Regions from separate parts of the Homo sapiens genome. Here all the other regions are linked to region 3. Evidence: fine-mapped QTL for protein levels in blood plasma. A gene starts in region 3. Each other region holds a variant in brackets. All regions are shown on one strand. Distances are between the middles of the regions. Region 1 overlaps PRKAR2A (protein kinase cAMP-dependent type II regulatory subunit alpha). Region 2 overlaps CACNA2D2 (calcium voltage-gated channel auxiliary subunit alpha2delta 2). Region 3 holds the start of PRKAR2A (protein kinase cAMP-dependent type II regulatory subunit alpha).

The links. A credible set is the group of variants that fine-mapping cannot tell apart. PIP is the chance, under the fine-mapping model, that this variant and not a neighbour inherited with it causes the effect. The UK Biobank Pharma Proteomics Project read protein levels with antibody pairs (Olink). The fine-mapping took linkage between variants from a reference panel, not from the people measured, so its PIPs are less certain.
Region 1: its variant is the best candidate, but not a certain one, in a credible set for the plasma level of the PRKAR2A protein (UK Biobank, PIP 0.88). The variant lies in the coding sequence of PRKAR2A. If it changes the protein, the assay may bind it differently, which can mimic a change of level.
Region 2: its variant is the best candidate, but not a certain one, in a credible set for the plasma level of the PRKAR2A protein (UK Biobank, PIP 0.87).

What each region holds. Positions count from the first base shown.
Region 1 is chr3:48,764,502-48,767,499 of GRCh38, forward strand. It overlaps PRKAR2A (protein kinase cAMP-dependent type II regulatory subunit alpha), which reads right to left. Exons shown (of 11, transcript NM_004157.4): 7 at 747-848; 8 at 503-577. Among named protein-coding and RNA genes, the nearest start is that of IP6K2, 49 kb to the left of the region's middle. The variant T/C (reference allele first, on the strand shown) is at 531.
Region 2 is chr3:50,400,060-50,408,481 of GRCh38, forward strand. The region is part of intron 3 of CACNA2D2 (calcium voltage-gated channel auxiliary subunit alpha2delta 2); the gene reads right to left. Among named protein-coding and RNA genes, the nearest start is that of TMEM115, 45 kb to the left of the region's middle. RefSeq lists enhancers at 160-660, 661-1,161 and a silencer at 5,306-5,506. The variant G/A (reference allele first, on the strand shown) is at 4,701.
Region 3 is chr3:48,844,278-48,852,620 of GRCh38, forward strand. PRKAR2A (protein kinase cAMP-dependent type II regulatory subunit alpha) reads right to left here and starts at 3,597. Exons shown (of 11, transcript NM_004157.4): 1 at 3,058-3,597. The coding sequence starts at 3,319. It overlaps PRKAR2A-AS1 (PRKAR2A antisense RNA 1), which reads left to right and starts at 3,660. Exons shown (of 3, transcript NR_109997.1): 1 at 3,660-3,748; 2 at 3,828-4,131; 3 at 4,710-7,705. RefSeq lists a silencer at 3,410-3,739.

The DNA.
Region 1 (2,998 bases), 82 kb before region 3:
GCAAGAGATCTGCACGTGTCAGTAAGACGGACGTCAATAAGCTTCAGAGGACTACATAATAGTCCTCTGAAGTATGATCTATTACCTGGTAATAAGAGCTCCCAACAGTGGGAGAACATAGAAGGTTTTTTGGTTTTTTTTTGAAATGGAGTCTTGCTCTGTTGCCCAGGCTGGAGGCAGTGGCGCAATCTCGACTCACTGAAACCTTTGCCTCCTGGGTTCCAGCAATTCTCCCGCCTCAGCCTCCCAAGTAGCTGGGATTACAGGCATGGGCCACCACACCCAGCTAATTTTTGTATTTTTAGTAGAGATGGAGTTTTACCATGTTGGCCAGGCTGGTCTTGAACTCCTGGCCTCAAGTGATCCACCTGCCTCAGCCTCCCGAAGTGTTGGGATTACAGGCGTGAGCCACTGCGTCCGGCAAGAAGTTTTTGAGATAAATGATGTACTAGTTCTTCAGGGGTGACTTCCAGGAAAGGAGCTGCGTAAAGCCCTCACTCACCTGAGTGATTATGCGTTCTCCATCCTTA[T/C]AGATCTTCTCTCCTATTACATCCACAATCTTCATTCGTTCTGACACCTGAAACAACAAATTCACAAATAAAAGGAAAAGACCTTAATTGAAAGTCACAATAGCTATGCAGCACAGAAATAGGATTAGAATAGTATGATTTGAAAACCTAACAACAGAATAGTTTTAAAAGCTTTTCCTGATCCCCATGAACAGATTCTTATTCAAGCCACTTTACCTCTAGTGATTTAAGGAGGGGCACAGACTCAATAAATGATTCAAACATCTTCCTCTTCTTTGCATTATTTTTCACTATGATTCTTCTAAAAGTCACCCGGTCCTACAAGAAAGAATATGAAAATTCTAGTAAATGCCTATATACAGGAACATCTATGGTTTAATTAACTGGCCAAAGCAAATATTAGAGGAATATGTAAGTTACTGTGTTAATTAAGTGTTTAATGATACTTCAATCTTGAGTCATCACTGGAAGTAAAGGACCTATAGCCTGAGCCAGCCAGATGCCCACATGCTGTTGCTTGCTATCTAGCACTCAATAGGTGCCACCTATGGGTCATAAATAGAACCCAAAACAGAAAACACCTAAACATTTATGAGCTCACTGTCACTGTTCAATATCAAAAAAGACACCTCTAGTGAGCCGAGATCATGTCACTGCACTCCAGCCTGGGTGACAGAGTGAGACCCTCATTTCAAAAAAAAAAAAAAAAAAAAAAAAGAGACACCTCACCAAAAGAGAGAATAAAACAATCATTTAATCCTTAGAATCCAGGATTTAAAAAAACTTAAAAAATCCAAAACAATTAGATTGTTCTTGCCTAAAAAAAGAACAATTAGATTGTTCTTACCCTAAAAAAGTTTACAATCTTAATGGGGAGATAATATAAAATATCAAAATATGAAGGTTGGCTGAATGCAGTGGCTCACTGCCTGTACTCCTAGCATTTTGGGAGGCTAAGGTGGGCAAATTGCTTGAGCCCAGGAGTATGAGACCAGCCTAGGCAACATGGTGAAACACGCTCTCTACGAAAAAATACACAAAAAAAGTTAGCTGGGCATGGTGGCACTTGTCTGTACTTGGGTGGCTGAGGTGAAAGGCTCACCAGAGCCTGAGAGGTCAAAGCTGCAGTGAGTTGTGATTGTACCACTGCATTCCAGCCTGGGCAGCAGAGTGACACTATGTCCCAAAAACAACAATATCAACAACAACAACAACAACAACAAAATACATAGGAATAAAAAGTCTACATTTCAAGGACAGGTGCAGTGGCTCACACCTGTAATCCCAGCATTCTGGGAGGCTGAGTCAGACAGATCACTTGAGCTCAGGAGTTCAAGACCAGGCTGTGCAACATGGTGAAACCCCATCTCTACAGAAAATACAAAAATTAGCTGGGCATGGTGGCGTTTGTCTAGTCCCAGCTAGTTGGGAGGCTGAGGCTGGAGAATCACTTGAGCTCAGGAGGCTAAGGTTGCAGTGAGCTGAGATTGCGCCACTGCACTCCAGCCTGGGTGACATAAGTTGAAACTGTGTCTCAAAAAAAAATAAAATAAAAATAAAAAGTCTACAGTTCAAGACAGCATATGAGCATATGAAATGTGCTTGATGAAACTACAGAAGACAAGTGCCACATAAATTTCAAGGTAAGAAGGGGAGATCACAGTAGGCAGGAGTGATCAAAGATTATTTTGCAGCAAAAATGTCTAGGACCTGAAAGAGAGGTAGGATTTAAGTTAATGGAGAGACACGGGAGGAATACGCAAGATGGAAGGCAGGCATATGAAAGATACCTTGACTCTAGCAAGTCATGGATTCCTTCTGTTTTATTTTGAGATAGGGTCCCCCAATGTTGTCCAGGCTGGCTTTGAACTCCTGGGGTCAAGTGATCTCCCCACCTCAGCCTCCCAAGTAGCTGGGACTACAGGTACACAACACTGTGCCTGGCTTAGTAAGTAATGGATTCTGATCAGAAGACAGTTAACCAAACCAGGCACTTCTCAGATATGTGTACACATGTGCAGGGAGATACATGTGAGAATGTTAATTGCTTAGTCTTAGATTCCTAAATGGGCAAGCAGTTATTTGTATCTAAGTTAACTACCTTTCTTCCACCTCAGGCTGTCAGGACTATACATATATACATTTTGTCAGAAAGTATAATAATGGGCTGGGCGCAGTGGCTCACGCCTGTAATCCCAGAACTTTGGGAGGCCGAGGCAGACGGATCGCTTGAGGTCAGGAGTTCAAGACCAGCCTGGCCAATATGGTGAAACCACATCTCTACTAAAAATACAAAAATTAGCCAGGCATGGTGGTGGGCGCCTGTAATCCCAGCTTCTTGGGACGCTGAGACAGGAGAATCACTTGAACCTGGGAGGCAGAGGTTGCAGTGAGCCGAGATCATGCCACTGCACTCCAGCCTGGGTAACAGAGCGAGACCCTGCCTCGAAAAAAACAAAAACAAAACA
Region 2 (8,422 bases), 1.6 Mb after region 3:
TGCACAGATAGATACTAAATACAGATTTCCAATTTCCAGAGCTGTTATGGTCTAATGAGTAAATAATATACATATTTAAAACTGTCTAAAAACATATCTGCATAATTAAAATATCTGCATAATAATGAAGCAAGATGCAGCTCTGCCAGGGGGGAGCTGGAGCCCCAGGGCTGACAGTAGGGGCAGAAGTGCAGGTGGGGTTAGGGGGCCCTGGCCCTGTGGGCCTCTGCTGCTGCTGCTTCGGCCTTGAGCAGACATTTGTCTGTCCATCCACCTCCTGCTCCAAGCAGGTGCGTCCACAGTCAGGGACCAAAAGAATCCCCTCAGCCCTGTCCTGGCACCACTCGTGGTCTGAGGGAGGCTTTGTGTGGACAGACAGTGCCTGCTACATGCATGACGGCCACCTCAGCGACTTTGTGGCCCTCACATGATGTGCTCAGAGCTTTATGGACACAGTCTCACTCACTACAACCTTCTGAGGGCATGTCTTGCCCCGACCCCACATTTTGCTGGGTTCTGAGGGATGAAGAGAAATGCAGCAGGATGGGCAGTGAGGGCCGAGCAGGGTCCGTGACTTACGTGCTGAGGGTGATGGAGACACGCCAGTGGCTGTGCTTTCCTGTCGGGTGCACTGTTGACATGCATGCCTCCTGGGACAGGACGGGCACCCAGCCTTACCCGTCCCTCAAGGCCCCTTCCTTCGCCCCTTGGCGCATCTACGCTGGACACACTTGGCTCCTGTCTCATCTTTATTTTTTCCTTAACAAATTTGTTATAGTTTTTATTAACTAATTATTATAAGACAAGGTCTCTCTATGTTGCCCAGGCTGGTCTTGAACTCTTGACCTCAAGTGATCCTCCTGCCTCGGCCTCCCAAAGTGCTGGGATTACAGGCGTGAGCCACCGCGCCTGGCCCATGGCACATCGTAAGGTTCAAACCTACTCTTTTTGTATTAACCATGTTTACACCTTAAAGATAAAATGACCACCAGAGTAACAAAAAACACTGAAACCCCAGACCACAATTCCAGCAAACAGAAGCCTGCAAGGAAAATAAACATTTCTGGCACAGAGGGTGCCTCAGGGGAAGGCTGGCATGGGAGGCCATCACCGCTGTTGGCAGCAACAGGCTCCCTGACCTTTTCCCTCACAGGACTCATGCGTCTTCTGCAAATTGATAAAAAAAATTAGTAAAATGGATTTTTTTTTTAATTTAAAAAAGGTCAGAATCCATGTAACAGGGAAAAACTCATTCGAGTTGTGGTCTCCCTCTGCAGCAGGGCAGCCGCCACTCCACCCAAGTCCAGGCTTGACACCTCCCTGTGGGTGTCACAGGCTTGGTAATCAGTGCCTGCACCCCCTCAGTCCAGCCTGGAAGGGGCAGGCTGTGCTTCAATTTCCTAGGAAAAATATGAAGAAATGAGGGGTGGCCTGTGATGGAGAAGCAGAGGGAATGACTGTGACCAGCCAGGGTGGGGAGCCTGGTATCCCAGATGCTGGAATTTCAGGTCAGACAGAATTTCCCAGAACATCCTGGGCTCCCAAGGATCCTTGCTATGTTGTATTTTGCCAAGAGAGGACACTTAAAAAAACTCCCACTCTCTCTTATTACTGTTATGTTACCAAAAAGTGAACGTTTTATTTTTATTTTCAGTTTTGTTTTTTTTGAGATGGAGTCTTGCTCTGTTGCCCAGGCTGGAGTGCAGTGGTGCGATCTGAGCTCAATGCAACCTCTGCCTCCTGGGTTCAGGCGATTCTCCTGCCTCAGCCTCCCGAGTAGCTACAGGCGCCCACCACCACGCTTGGATAATTTTTGTATTTTTAGTTTCACCATGTGGCAACAGGGTTTCACCATGTTGCCCAGGCTGGTCTTGAACTCCTGACCTCAAGTCATCCGCCTGCCTTGGCCTCCCAAAGTGCTGGGATTACAGTTGTGAGCCACTGCATCCGGCCAAAGTGGACGTTTTAACATCAAGAGGAGGAAGGCCATGAGCTCTGGGATCCCTTCCCAAGGAAGTAAAGGAAGTGGCACTCACAGGTGGTAACAAGTATTCCACTGGCTTTCATTGCTTTTTTGCTTTAAACTGGAACCACAATCAATACAGAAAGAGGTCGGGTGTGTCCTGGGACAGGAGCCAAATGTGTCCAGTGTGAACAGGGAGAGGGTGAGGCAAGGGGCCTCTGTGGCTGGGCTGAGCATTTGCAGAAACCAGCTTGAATTTACAGACCAGTTTTCTGGAAATGGGAGTGAAACCCACCCTCTAGAGATTTTTACTCTGCAGCAGCAGGCTGACTCAGGAGGACGTGTGGGTGGACCTGGACAACCACGTGCTGCAGGAAAGGTCTGGTCTCAGGGCTGCAGGTCTCTGCCTTACCCAGTCCCCTGCTGAGCTCCCAGGTCTCCTGTTGAGCACTTGCAAGAGATGCCCCAATGAGAAATAAACCAATACATGCAACAAACTGCTTCAGGTCCACATTTGAACTGTGGCTTCAGAGCCCAGCCATATGAAGGCACCTCACCCTCAAGGAACCCAGAGCTGAAGGCTACTCCAGGCTGCTGGGGCTCTTTCCAAGATATTGCCCTGCTCAGCCCCATCCCACAGGGGCTCAAACGGGTGGGAATCCACCAACCTAGCTGGCACCCCAGCATGAAACTTACCCATTTCTGCAGGTCAGTCAGTCCCTGGCAACCCAGGTGGAATTTATCAGAATTCTGCCAGTTTTGTGTCAGTTTCCCTCCCCCTAAATTATGATCCATAATTCATCAACATTTCTCTCATCCTTAGAAAAAACCATGCAGATAGCATTGGGTGAGGGTACCCATCCAGGGGCCGTCGGCCACTCTGGCTAGGGGAGCAGGGACACATCCTTATCTGAGTGCTCTGTGGGGCATGGTGCTGCCTCCTGTCCCCTCATCAGTCCCCATTCTAGAGATATGTGTGGGCACGGGGGTGGTCGTTGAGTGTGACAGTGCCCTCCTCCCTTGTCCAGCCACAGAGGCCAAGGTACCCAAGTTCCTAGGGCTTGGCAATTGACCCAGCACATAATTTGGGGAGCACTGCCCTCACCTCTCTGTACCTTGATCTCTCATCTATAACAGGGAGGGACCAAAACACTGCCAGGGCCCCTCCCAGGGCTGTGAGGATGTGGATGGAGAGCAGGGCATAGACAGCGAACGGGATGGGGACTCACTTTGGAAACTGGAGACACAACTCCAGGTTCTGGGTTGCTCCTTCCCTTACCTCACTCCAGGGGCCTCCTGACTGGTTCCCCCTCCCCCAAACTCAGCTTCTCTCTAGGGCCTTCTAAACTTGGCCTGACCTGTTTTCTTCTTCAGTTTATGCCAACGGGCTGCCCTTCTCCTCAGCACCAACTTCGCTGGAGATCTTGTTCATTACCCCCCTGCAGCCCTGCTTGGCTTCCAGCCCTACTCCCATGACCCCTTCCTTGCCTTCCTGACCAGACCTCTCCCAAGCCCTGCAACCCACCTTCAGACTCCCAACCAAAGCTGGTTATCATGAACTCATCTGCCCCAGCCCCCACACCTTCAGGTTTCCCCATCAAGTTCTGTGACCTGTCTGTGTTTCCCGGATGCCTGGACCACTCCTCCCTTCCTAACATTATCCTTTACCAGGCTCTGCCAACCTCATCTCTCTTCTACCACACTGACATTGAAGTTTGCCTTCCTGCCATGCTGCGGTTCCAAAGCCTTGTTTGTGCTGTATCCCAAGCCTGGAGTGTCCTTTCTCATCCCCTCCCCTGGCTAGCTCCTCCTCATCCTGTAGGAGCCACTGCTCTTCTGCCTCCTCCAGGAATCCTGGTGCCCTGTAGGGCTGGGTTCCCACAATTGCCCTGGGGTTTCCATCACTGCATGTGCCTGATTCCCTCCCAGATGTGGTCCCTTGAAGGCAGGGACTTGATTCATGGATCTGTGTGGCCCCAGTGCTGGGCAAGCCAGCTCAGTGAGGAAATGCTAAGTGACCTCAGGCTCCCATCACAGTCAAGGGGTCAGGGGGTGGATCAGGAGTTGCCCTTGGGGATCTGCTGGTTTGGAGGCCCTGGGTTTCATTGGGATAGAGATGGCAGAAACCCGGTCAGAAATGGTACTGATGACAGAGAATAGGGATCCAAGATGGTGTGGGGGGTGAAGGTGTGAGTGGGGTGAGGCTGAATCTAAGTACAGGCCTCACTGTGTTCTCCACGAAGAGGCATGCGAGGGGCAGCCTCTGGGGTCTGAACTGCTGAAGTCTGCTCTCCAGGACCACAACTCCACTCTGGACCTTGTGAAAATGTTACCCATTAGCCCCACCCAGCTGCTGCCAGGTCAGTAATAACATGGTTATTAGCAGAAGTCCCCGGGGCTCTGCTGGAATGAGAGGCAGAGGGTGGTGGACAGGAGTGCCTCATCTGGCCAGGTCAGCCAGGAGCTGAGTCCCCAGGGAGCTCAGCACCCCTGCCCTGGTGCCAGATCAGTGCATTCTCCTGACATGCCCCAACATCCTCCTCCAAGAAGCCTTCTCAGATGCCTCTATGCCCACCATGGCTCAGGGGCAGGACATGGGAGGGTGACAGTTCCCATGGGAAGAGGTTGATATGACTCTCCTTCCTTCCTGTCAACACATGTTTACTGAGCACCTACTGTGTGCAGTAAACTGGCCTGAGGAGGTCAGTGAGCATTACAGACATAGCCCTGCTCTTAC[G/A]TGGGGTGCCAGCAGTAAGTTCTTCTTTATAGTCCACCTAACTTCTTCCCACTGCAATTCAGTCCCACTGCCCTGAGCAGAGAACTTGCTAGAGGCCTCTACAGGAAGAGCTGCCTGGAATGGCACCGTCACTGGAAGAATTTAGGGTGCTAGGAAGCTCCCCTGCATGGGAATGTATTCCCACCTGAAAGCTGAGAGTGAGACCCCACCCCAGCTAGAACAAGAGAGCCTGAGTCCCAGCCCAACCTCCAGGCTCCCTTCCCATGATGTTATTTTTATACTTTTTCCTAAAACACAGCCTAAGCGGGCCCTTCTCAGCTCTATTAACATTAGGAATCTAATCAGTAATCAGACAGCTCATAATTTTCTGATTAGCTTTGATTAGGCCCAACCTCAGGAGAAGGAGTGGGACAGTGAAGAGGGAGGTGGGGACAAAAGGGCCCTGAAATGTGCCCGATGGGGCACTGGTTGGGCTGGGGGTGGAGGGTAGTGGAGAAGAACCTCTAGCCCCATTGTTGCCTGTTTTGGGGAAGGGACGTGGAATGGAGTCGTGGGTTGCACTGGGTCAAACAGGTTGCAGGGTCAGAGAGCAAGGGCCGTGGTGGGGAGGGGGGTGGGGGCGAGCCCAGCCCACCTAGGCAGCAGGAACACCAGAGCAAGCAGCTTGGGCGAAGACTTTCAGCACCATGGACAGAGGTAGGGAGGAGCGTCAGGGCTGGGTTTGGGCAACCACCTGGGTGTTATCTTGCCCAGGCCCCCTCATTCCTCGGTGGCACTCAAGGAATGATCCCAGGCATAACCTTGAGTAATGGTGACAGTGACAGAAACGGTAGGTCTGCTCAGTGGGCTGAAATATGTGACCTTGGACCTGGAGAACTGGCCCTGGGCACTCTTACTAAACACACCACAGGCAGGGCCTGCCTTGACAATCATCCCTTCAAGGTGAAGACAACAAGGTCAGGGGCCCACTGGCCCCCCCATACAAAGGGGGAACTGAGGCCTGGAGGGACTGTCAGGCCACTGTACCATTAGGGACAGAGCTTGGACCTGTACTGAGGCATCCCAGGCCAGGGCCAGATCTCTCTCCTGTTTAAGGCCTGTTTGTAGCTTTTGCATCACATGCTCAGATGGAACCATGGTGCTAGCCAAACCAGACTTCCTAGGCCTGCCACTCATGCACTCTGACCCCTGCTCTGACCCTGTTCCTGGCGATCATGAGAACTCTCCAATCTCTACCCCCTATCCATTGCCCTTCCCCACAGATTCAGACTTCTTGTAGCCACATCCTGGAGCCCTATTCAGGTCAGAGTCAGAGTGGCTCTGCCCCTGCCCCCTGGTCTGGGATCACAGGTCATTGCCCTTTGTCAGATGCAGCCATCCAGGTGACCGCTAATGAAATACACGAACCCATTGGAGAAGACATGCACAGCTAATGCCATGCAAATTGGCACAGAGGCAATCAGCCTGACTCTAAAAGCTGCCCCACTGGCCGCAGGCTGGCTCATTGTCTTTTCTGTCAATTTGCATCTCATTACCCAGAAGGCTGTGCTCACTGGAGGTTAAAAGAAAAAAAGCACCAAGCAAGCCCCACTGTGTCCTGCCTCCAGCAAGGGCAAAGCCCACGAGTGGGACAGGGCTGCCTGGAGGACTGCCCCTCAGAGGTACACTCCACAGGGAGCCCCCCATCAGCCCTATCACCCCCATCACCCACCATCAATATTATCCCTGCACCACCAGAATGCTACTCCATTCACCATCATCCCCATCATCACTGTTGTTCCCCCCACTTAACCAGCACCAATGTCCCCATGTTCACTGCCAACATCCTCCCCATCACCATTGCCAATATTACTCCATCATCATCAGTGTTACTCCCATCACCATCAGCTCCACCATCACTACCTTCATCCCCATCACCATAGTCATCACTTCCATCATCACCATCTTCATCTACCACCATCAACTCTACTGCCAACATCACTTCCATCACCACCTTTACCATCACTGTCACCACTACGACCATCACCCCACTGTGGTCACCTCTGCTAGTGCTCATGTCTCCTGGTAATCACCACTACCACTGTGCTCACTGCTACCTGCACCATCACCTCTGTATCCCTGAGAAGAGTCTGATGAAGAGACAGAGACAACTCATTCTTCACCTTTCTCTGTCCATCACCCTCCAGCATCATCAGAGGGTTGGGGAACCTGTAAACAAATGACTCAGTGACCAGAGAGCTCATAATCAACCTGGATATTGGTGCTTGTATCTAGGTACCTTGACCTAGGTGCTTGATCTAGGTATCTGTGACCTTGGACATGGAGAACTGGCCCTGGGCACTCTTACTAAACACACCACAGGCAGGGTCTGCCTTGATGATCATCCCTTCAAGGTGAAGACAACGAGGTCAGGGGCCCACTGGCCCCCCTATACAAAGGGGGAGCTGAGGCCTGGAAGGACTGTCAGGCCACTGTACCATTAGGGACAGAGCCTGGACCTGTACTGAGGCATCACAGGTCAGGGCCAGATCTCTCTCCTGTTTAAGGCCTGTTTGTGGCTTTTGCATCACATGCTCAGATGGAACCATGGTGCTGGCCAAATTAGACTTCCTAGGCCTGCCACTCGTGGGCTCTGACCCCTGCTCTGACCCTGTTCCTGGCGATCATGAGGGCTTCAGGAGGAAAGCCCTCAAGGCCAGGGGGTGGAATGGGTGCTTGTCCACTCTACCAGGGCCCCTGAAGAGACTGGGGCTTAGCTTACTCTCCTGGTTCTAGTAGGACCTGGGACTGGGCAGACAGTGACCAGCAGCCACAGTACCCCATGGGGCAGAGCCAGGAGCTGCATGTGTAATGCACAGAACTGATACCATTCTCTGAATCCTGATAACCTCCTCCCTAACACGGGGCTTCTACTAGTCCCAGCCTCATAAGACTGTGAGGATGAAGGCAGACATGAGAGGAGAACAGTGAGCATCCAAGGCTGTCTCAAAGGGCACATAAACCCTATGGGAGAGGAGTATGGTTAGGCTAAGCCAGGTGGGCTTTGGGAAAGGGAGCACCAGGCAAAACTTGAAGGGCAAGGTCAGATGAAGGGGATAAGGGAAGTAATGCCCAGAGGGCAAAGATGTGGGGGTAGGAAGGAGGGCAGTGGAGGCCAGGGGAGCTGATTTAGGCCTTCGATTCTCCTGGGCCTCCCTGGACTCAGGGATTGGTGCGGTAGGTGTTTGTGCTTATGAACATGGCCCAGCCTCTTCCACAGGACCTCATTTCATTATCTGCACCTTGCTTCACACACATGCTTCCAAAAAGCCCCAAGAAGCCCAATCATTATTCCCATTCCCCCGACGAGGTCACCAAGGCTCAGAGAGGGTGACTCACCCACCCAAGACCACACAATGATCAAATGGCAGAGCTCAAACTGAATCCAGCTTTGTCCATGCCAGGGATGGGCTCTGACAACTCCCTGTGTCCCTGGGCAGCAAGGCGGGATATGAACCTAGGCCAAGACAAAGCCAGGGCTCCCTGCACAGGTCATCCAGAAGAGTGGGAGCAGGAGCCAGACTCTTCCAGCTAGGCTGTCACTCTGCTGGATGTGGACGCCTGAGGCTCCACCTTGTCGCTGCCCACCAGCTTTGGGACACAAAGCCAAGCACTGGTTGGCCCGGGGATGATGCTGAGGGCCCAGGCAGAGGTGACAGGCAGACAAAGGGCTGGAGGTGGTG
Region 3 (8,343 bases):
CACAATGAGATACCATCTCACACCAGTTAGAATGGCAATCATTAAAAAGTCTGGAAACAACAGGTGCTGGAGAGGATGTGGAGAAATAGGAACACTTTTACACTGTTGGTGGGACTGTAAACTAGTTCAACCATTGTGGAAGTCAGTGTGGCGATTCCTCAGGGATCTAGAACTAGAAATACCATTTGACCCAGCCATCCCATTACTGGGTATATACCCAAAGGACTATAAATCATGCTGCTATAAAGGCACATGCACACGTATGTTTATTGCAGCACTATTCACAATAGCAAAGACTTGGAACCAACCCAAATGTCCAACAATGATAGACTGGATTAAGAAAATGTGGCACATATACACCATGGAATACTATGCAGCCATAAAAAATGATGAGTTCATGTCCTTTGTAGGGACATGGATGAAATTGGAAACCATCATTCTCAGTAAACTATCGCAAGGACAAAAAACCAAACACCGCATGTTCTCACTCACAGATGGGAATTGAACAATGAGAACACATGGACACAGGAAGGGGAACATCACACTCTGGGGACTGTTGTGGGGTGGGGGGAGGGATAGCATTAGGAGATATACCTAATGCTAAATGACGAGTTAATGGGTGCAGCACACCAGCATGGCACATGTATACATATGTAACTAACCTGCACATTGTGCACATGTACCCTAAAACTTAAAGTATAATAAAAAAGAAAAAAAACTTGTAAACTTTTACTCATCTGAGGCTAATTTCTAAAATCCTAAAGTGTTGTGTAAATAAAAATTGTCTCAAAGCAGGTTACTGCTTTGTGATTTACAGAGATGACAGTGAAACAAACCTGAAATAAAGCTTTTAAAAACAAATTTGTCCCTGGAAGATTGTTGTCACTGTCCTCAACTTAAAGATAAGAAAATCTGAGATCAAACAGGTTTGAGAATTTGTCCAAGACCACAAAGCAAACCTGTGGCAGAGTTTAGAAAATAATTTCTGATTTCCCAAAAACCCATGATGTAATGTGCAATAAATCAAGGGAAACCCAGAAGAGCCCTTGTTACTCCTTTAGCATGAATACACTTAGGGAGATTGCCCAGTGCACTGAAGCTTGTGACCTCCCACAGCAATGACCGTTAATTAACTCCTTCCCTGCCGTGACTTGAATACTGGGCCAGACCAGATACAACTCAGAACTAGTTTTGTGTGTGTGTGATCTAATAACACTAAGATCCTAACTTGGCCTCTCAAATGGTTTCATTGTTTTGTTAAATTTTAGTTGTTCAAAAGTAGGCCAATTCTACTGTTAAATTGACAAAGCATATGTTGAAGCAACCAAGGAAACTGTAATAGCTTCTTAACACTCTTGCGTAGATCAGATGTAGAAAGTGTTATTTTGGACAGGAGCAGTAGCTCATGCCTGTAATCCTAGCACTTTGGGAGGCCAAGGCAGGAGCATTACTTGAGGCCAGGAGTTCAAGACCAGCCTGGGCAACACAGGGAGACCCCGTCTCTATAAAACACTTAAAATTAGTAAGGCATGGTGGCACATGCCCTTAGTCCCAGCTACTTGGGAGGCCCAGGTGGGAGGATACCTTGAGCTTGTGAGGTTGGGGTTGCAGTGAGCCCTGATTGTGCCACTACACCCCAGCCTGGGTGACAGAGCGAGATCCTGACTTTAAAAAAAAAAAAAGGTGTGATGATCTTGGATCACCAAATCTGTGAGGGGAGGGACAGTCTCCAACTTGTTTCCTGCTCGGTCCTTATTGCGTACTCTTGGAGTTTATTGCAAACTCTTGGAGAAGGTTTACTATTACTAAATGATAAATCCTGACACAGCAAGTAGAGCCAATGAAGCTGCTCTCCTGATCTCAGTCTCTGCTGGGATCCTTTCCTTTAAAGCTACAACCCACCCACTAAACAAGAATATAGTTACTGGGTTTTTCCTTTTTCTTTTTTTTTTTTTTTGAGACGGAGTTCGCTCTGTCGCCCAGGCTGGAGTGCAGTGGCATGATCTTGGCTCACTGCAACCTCCGCCTCCCAGGTTCAAGCGATTCTCCCTGCCTCAGCCTCCCAAGTAGCTGGGACTACAGACGCCCGCCACCACGCCCGGCTAATTTTTGTATTTTTAGTAGAGACGGGGTTTCGCCATGTTGGCCAGGCTGGTCTCGAACTCCTGACCTCAGGTGATCCACCCGCCTCGGCCTCCCAAAGTGCTGGGACTACAGGCGTGACCCACCACGCCCGGCCAGGTTTTTCGTTTTCAAAAATGAGGTAGGGTGTCTATTTTGCCCAGGCTGGTCTCGAACTCTTGGATTCAAGCGATATTTCCTCCTCAGCCTCCAGAGTAGCTGGTATAGACTATAGGGGCCCACTGCCCCGGCCGGCAAGATAATTATTTACTCTCACCAAATTTGATTCAATCGTTTTGGCCAAGTTTTTAAAAATAGGAATATTCCCAGGGACCATGTTTGAAGAAATACAAACTCAAGTAAGCAGAGGTGAAATGACCTGAGAGATTTGCTTTAATACACTTCGGCAAAGAAAGAAAAAAGGTATGGATGAAACTTTGTGACAAACGCAACTGTTAAATGTAGGTGATGGCATATAGGGATTCATCTCACCTTTCCTCTTTTGTCTATGCTTAAAAGTTTTCACAGTAACTTTTCAAAAAAAATTATTATTTCCAAACAAACTTACTGTCCTATCAATTAAACACAAGTCACTGGATGAGAACGCTGTTGTCTTCGAAGCCAAAACTGGTGAAGGGTCTTAAGCAAAGGCGAGGGATCCTCTAGCAGGGCCGACAGCGCGCACGTTTCCTTCAAGGCTGGATCTGACAAATCACTCGGTGCGCTCTAGGGCTCGCAGGATCGCGGAGCTCAATTTGGAAGTGGCGCACGCGGGCTCACGCCGGTGTCTCAGGGAAACGCTAGAAACGCGGCTACAGAGCTCCCAATCCCAGCCTGCGGTCGGCTTGGCTGCGGCGCGACACCTGGCTCCCTGCCACCCCTCTAGACCTCTGGAGACCTCCTGCACCACTCCCCAGGGCCCCGCCCACAGCCTACCTTCCAAGTCCTCGTCCTCCTCCGACTCGCTGTCCCCTTTGGCGTCGGCGACACGGTCCGGGCCGGGTTCTGGCGGGGGGTGGCCCAGGCTCTGGCGTGGGGTGGCGGCGGGCAGGACTGAGGCTGGGGCGCGGGCCTCGCGCAGGCGGGTGAAGTACTCCACTGCGAATTCGACGAGGTCAGGCGGCTGCTGTCGCAGCACCTCCACCGTGTAGCCCTGCAGCAGCTCCGTGAGCCCCGGCGGGATCTGGATGTGGCTCATGCCGGCGGCGGCCGAAGGGATAGACGGGTTGGGCCGCCGGCGGCCACTGTCTCCGCGCTCACTCACGCCGGCCTTTCGCTCCGCGCCCGCGAGGTCTCTTCGCGCACGGCCCCGGCTCACGTCGCGCCGCTCTTTGGCCGGCTCTGCGTTTCCGGGCCGCGCAACCCTACGCTACCACGGCCGACCTGGCACCGCCGCCGCTGTCACTGGGCAGCCGCCGCCGCCGCGGGGACCGACGGGCAGGCGAGCTGGACGGGCGGGGCAGGCGTCCTGGTTGTGACGCACGCCACCGCGGGCGTGCGCGTCCCCGCTTAGCACCGGCCCTCAGTGCGCTTGCGCCACTAGATGACCCGCCCCCTCGGGCTGTCGGGGGGTCGAGACAGTGGAGTGTTCCTGATGCCAGCTCACGGAGGGAATCCAGGGAATTAGGTAATGAACGGTCTACCCATGAAGGGGACCGATTAGTGCCTCTCGCCTGGTCCTGAAGACCTTTAAATTATTCTTTCAGCTGATGCCAAGAGCCTCTTTTTGGCCAGCACTTACTAAGCACCAGAGACACAGCGAGAAGCAGAAGCATACGAGCACATCAGTGTGATTCTGCTGTGATGAAGGGCAAGAGAGGGCTCACTTTCCGGCGTGACATTCAAGCTAGCCCCGAGGCCTGAGCAGGACCCGCCCAGGGGAAGATCTGGAGGAAAGCCATCTGAACATACAACAAGAGCAAAGGCCTGGTGGAGTCAAGACCACCTTGGCTGCCAGGTGGAATGGTGGAATAACTCAGGAGTCTGTCAGGTCTCTGAGATGTCAAACGGGTAAGGCCTTGTAGGAAGTAGGCGTTTGAATGAGATCATAATTTGAGAGCCACAGACAGAAAAATAAATTTGAAAGAGTTCACTCAGCCAAATGTGTACAGTGAGAAAGGGAAATAAGGCCAAAAGCAGCAAAGACCTCTGTGCCTGTTCCTCCTGGAGCACTTTCACCAGGGTCCCCAGATCTAGGTCTGCCCATTCCTCTCCCCACATTCTACACTGGGCCCTAGGTCAACACTGCTTGATGAAGTTGAGCAGACCACAGGCATTGTTATCCTTTGCCCCTGGGAAGATGGTATAGGTGAACTGTAGAGGCCAGACTATTTCCCAAATTGCCCTCCTCCTCCTACCAAACTGGAAGGGTATTGAAAAAGGTGGAGACCTTCCTGGGATGTCCAGTCTACAGCCTACGTGCTAACCAAAGGCCCACTGGGCATAGAGCAGAGTCCCCCTCTCCTTACAGGCCTAGCCAGGAAGAGAGTAGCTGTAGGTTTGGGAACCTGAGGGCATTTGGGATGCTTAAACACCGCCTGGTAATTACTCAGTATTAATTAAAATCCTCCCTATCACCTCCCATACAGGCTTGGCACACACCCAGGAGCTCAATGCTGCTGGGAGCTGAGCAGCTGGGAGCAAGGAGCCCTCATCCCCACTGATGAAGAGGCCAGCCCAGGTTCTAGGCTAAGCAGGCCTGTGATTATAAACAGCAGTGTCTCCCTGGACAAGTTTCTTGACCCTGAGAAGAATGTTAGACCATCAACTTTGTGAGGGGACAGGCAGTCTCCAACTTTTTTCCTGCTCAGTCCTTATTGCATACTCTTGGAGAAGGTCTACTGACTTGTTCTCAGATGCCCCACGGCTCAGCCAACCACCCATCCAGCAGAGCATTCAAAAGGCATCTGGAAGGAATGAGGGCGACCGTTCTGCCAGGCCCCTATTTTTTTTTGAGAGGAGTCTCACTCTGTCGCCCAGGCTGGAGTGCAATGGCATGACCTCTGCTCACTGCAAGCTCTGCCTCCCAGGTTCAAGCGATTCTCCTGTCTCAGCCTCCCAAGTAGCTGGTACTACAGGCGTGCACCACCACACCCAGCAAATTTTTTCTATTTTTAGTAGAGATGGGGTTTCTCCATGTTGGCCAGGATGGTCTCAATCTCTTGACCTCGTGATCCACCCGCCTCAGCCTCCCAAAGTGCTGGGATTACAGGCGTGAGCCACCGCACCTGGCTTTTTTTTTTTCTTTTAGATGGAGTCTTCCTTTTGTCGCCCAAGGTGGAGTGCAATGGCACGATCTCAGCTCACTGCAACCTCCACCTCCCAGGTTCAAGCAATTCTCCTGCATCAGCCTCCTGTGTAGCTGGGATTATAGGCACCTGCCACCATGCCCAGTTAATTTTTGTATTTTCAGTAGAGACGGGGTTTTGCCATGTTGGCCAGGATGGTCTCGAACTCCTGACCTAGGGATCTGCCCGCCTTAGCCTCCCAAAGTTCTGGGATTACAGGCGTGAGGCACTGCACCTGGCCATTTTGTTTGTTTGGGTTTGTTTTTGAGATGGAGTCTTGCTCTGTTGCCCAGGCTGGAGTGCAGTGGCATGATCTCGGCCCATTGCAAGCTCCACCTCCCGGGTTCATGCCATTCTCCTGCCTCAGCCTCCAGAGTAGCTGGGACTACAGGCGTGCGCCACCATGCCCAGCTAATTTTTTGTATTTTTTAGTAGAGACGGGGTTTCACCATGTTAGCCAGGATGGTCTGGATTTCCTGACCTCATGATCCGCCTGCCTTGGCCTCCCAAAGTGCTGGGATTACAGGCGTGAGCCACCACGCCTGGCCTGTTTGTTTTTTTGAGACACAGTCTTACTCTGTTGCCCAGGCTGGAGTGCAGTGACGCGATCTCGGCTCACTGCAACCTCCACCTCCCAGGTTCAAGCGATTCTCGTGTCTCAGCCTCCCAAGTAGCTGGGATTATAGGTGCGCACCACCACGCCCGGCTTATTTTTTGTATTTTTAGTGCAGATGGGGTTTCACCATATTGGCCAGGCTGGTCTTGAACTCCTGACCTCAGGTGATCCGCCTGCCTCAGCTTCCCAAAATGCTGGGATTACCAGCATGAGTCACCACGCCCGGCCAAGAAAGACCCATATTTTGTTTTGTTTTCTTTTTTGAGATGGAGTCTTGCTCTGTCGCTCAGGCTGGAGTGCAGTGGCGCAATCTCTGCTCACTGCAACCTCCACCTCCTGGGTTCAAGCCATTCTCCTGCCTCAGCCTCCCGAGTAGCTGGGACTACAGGCGCACACCACCACGCCTGGCTAATTTTTGTATTTTTAGTACAGACAGGGCCAGACTGGTCACGAACTCCTGACCTCAGGCGATCCACCCGCCTCAGCCTTCCAAAGTGCTGGAATTATAGGTGTGAGCCATCGCACCTGGCCACCAGACCCCCATTAACTTCAGTAGGGATGGCACCAGGTTTGAGAGGCCAAAAGAGATCCAGAGCCAGCAAACAAGACTTAGGTTTGATTGAGGGGAATTTGCATACAGAGCAGTCCAGTGGAGGTGGGCTAGATAGGAGAACTGCCCCACCTGCAGAAAGTATGCAGTATATATAGCATTTTCACTTAACACCCTCCCCCTAACAACTTTGATTTAACCCAAAACAAAGGGGCTAAATCCCCTGTACATCCACAGGACAGAATGGGGGCTCAGATATTCCTCATGGGTAAGTAATGAATCTCTGGCTTGTCCTCACTTGGAACTCCTAACACATTCAGGTGCATCTGCCATACAGGGTCATTCTCAGAGTATGCTTAAGTTATTGCTGTCAGGTGCAGCTACCATACACAGGTGTGTCTGCCATATAGCCACAGAAAGCAGGAGTCCTACAGCTGCTCCTCATGGGTCTCCATAGACTAGTCTTAGAGCAAGGATGGGCAGCCAGCCTCCAGGTTTAACCTGGCACTCTCCCCCAGCACTTGGTCCCCAGAGCAGGGGTGCATCTCTCCCACTTCTGGTCAACCCTTCAGTAACAAGTAGAGCCCCCAGGGTCTTCATGAATATCTAGTTGAACTGGCTAAAGAAGAGGGCCCTGTAACAGGACAGAACACCAGGAGCCTGAACCCCGCATCTTCTACCCTTATCCTGCATTTATCCTGCCTGCATTCAAGCCTGTCCAGCTGCACCACTGGAGGTTACCATGGCAACTAAACCCAGAGGCAGCCGGTAACTGAGATACAGCTGCCAAGAGCAACTGATGGTGGAAAAGGCCAACAGCAGAGACTCTTAGAAGGAAGAGAAGTACACAGGAGGAGGCCCCAGAACCCTGAGGGTGCTACACTCAAATCTAATCCTACTCACAACTCAGCAGGCAGTCAACGTCTTGCACAAACTGCCATATCACCAACCAGAGGCACAGATATGGACACAATGGGGCCAATTTGCAGAGATGTTTGCAACTATGGATGCAGAGTAGCACAGGTGGGACACATGTTGTTTAGCCCAAAAGCAACGGGTCTTGGTGAAAACGAAAATGGGTAGGGTACCATTGCTGTTTCCAATGAAACAATGAATTTTGTGTGCTCTTGATAGGTTTGTTATTCAAACGTTTCTGTCTGTCTCTCCAAGATGAAGAGAGGGGCCTAAACTTCCCCGAACTCCTCTGAAGGCCTGCTCTTGGCTCAGATCCTCCAGCTTAAATACCTTATGCCCTCTGCATACTTGCAGGACTCAGGTCCAGCAGGAAAACCTCCCTCTTACTTGATCAAGGGACCACTTTTCTAAGCCATTCCAGTCCCCCACCCATTTCCTGGGATCCGCTGGTCACCTGACCACCTCTACATGCCAGGCCCTCCTGGATTTAGTACTCCCAGCTCACTTAGTTCCTACAAGCAACAGCTTCTATGTTGCCTTAGAAGTGTTCATGAGCCTTTAGTTGGCAAGAGAGATTGAGGAAGTGGGCTATGTTTTCTCGGCCCTTACCCAAGCTGTCTTTCAGCCTCTACTGTGGCTCCTCCAGCGAGGCCATTGCCTTTTGCCCAGGAAATCTAATCTGTTTTAACAAGTGCCCATGCTCCAGGGAGCAGTTAGCTCCCAGGCCACGTTTGTGTACCTGTGAGCCATCCCCACGCCTGAGACACTATGTCCTGAGAAAATGTCAGTCTCTGCAGTGGACCCAGGGTCTGCATCTGAGACACCTCAGGGCAAGGACAGAACCTAGAAAGCAC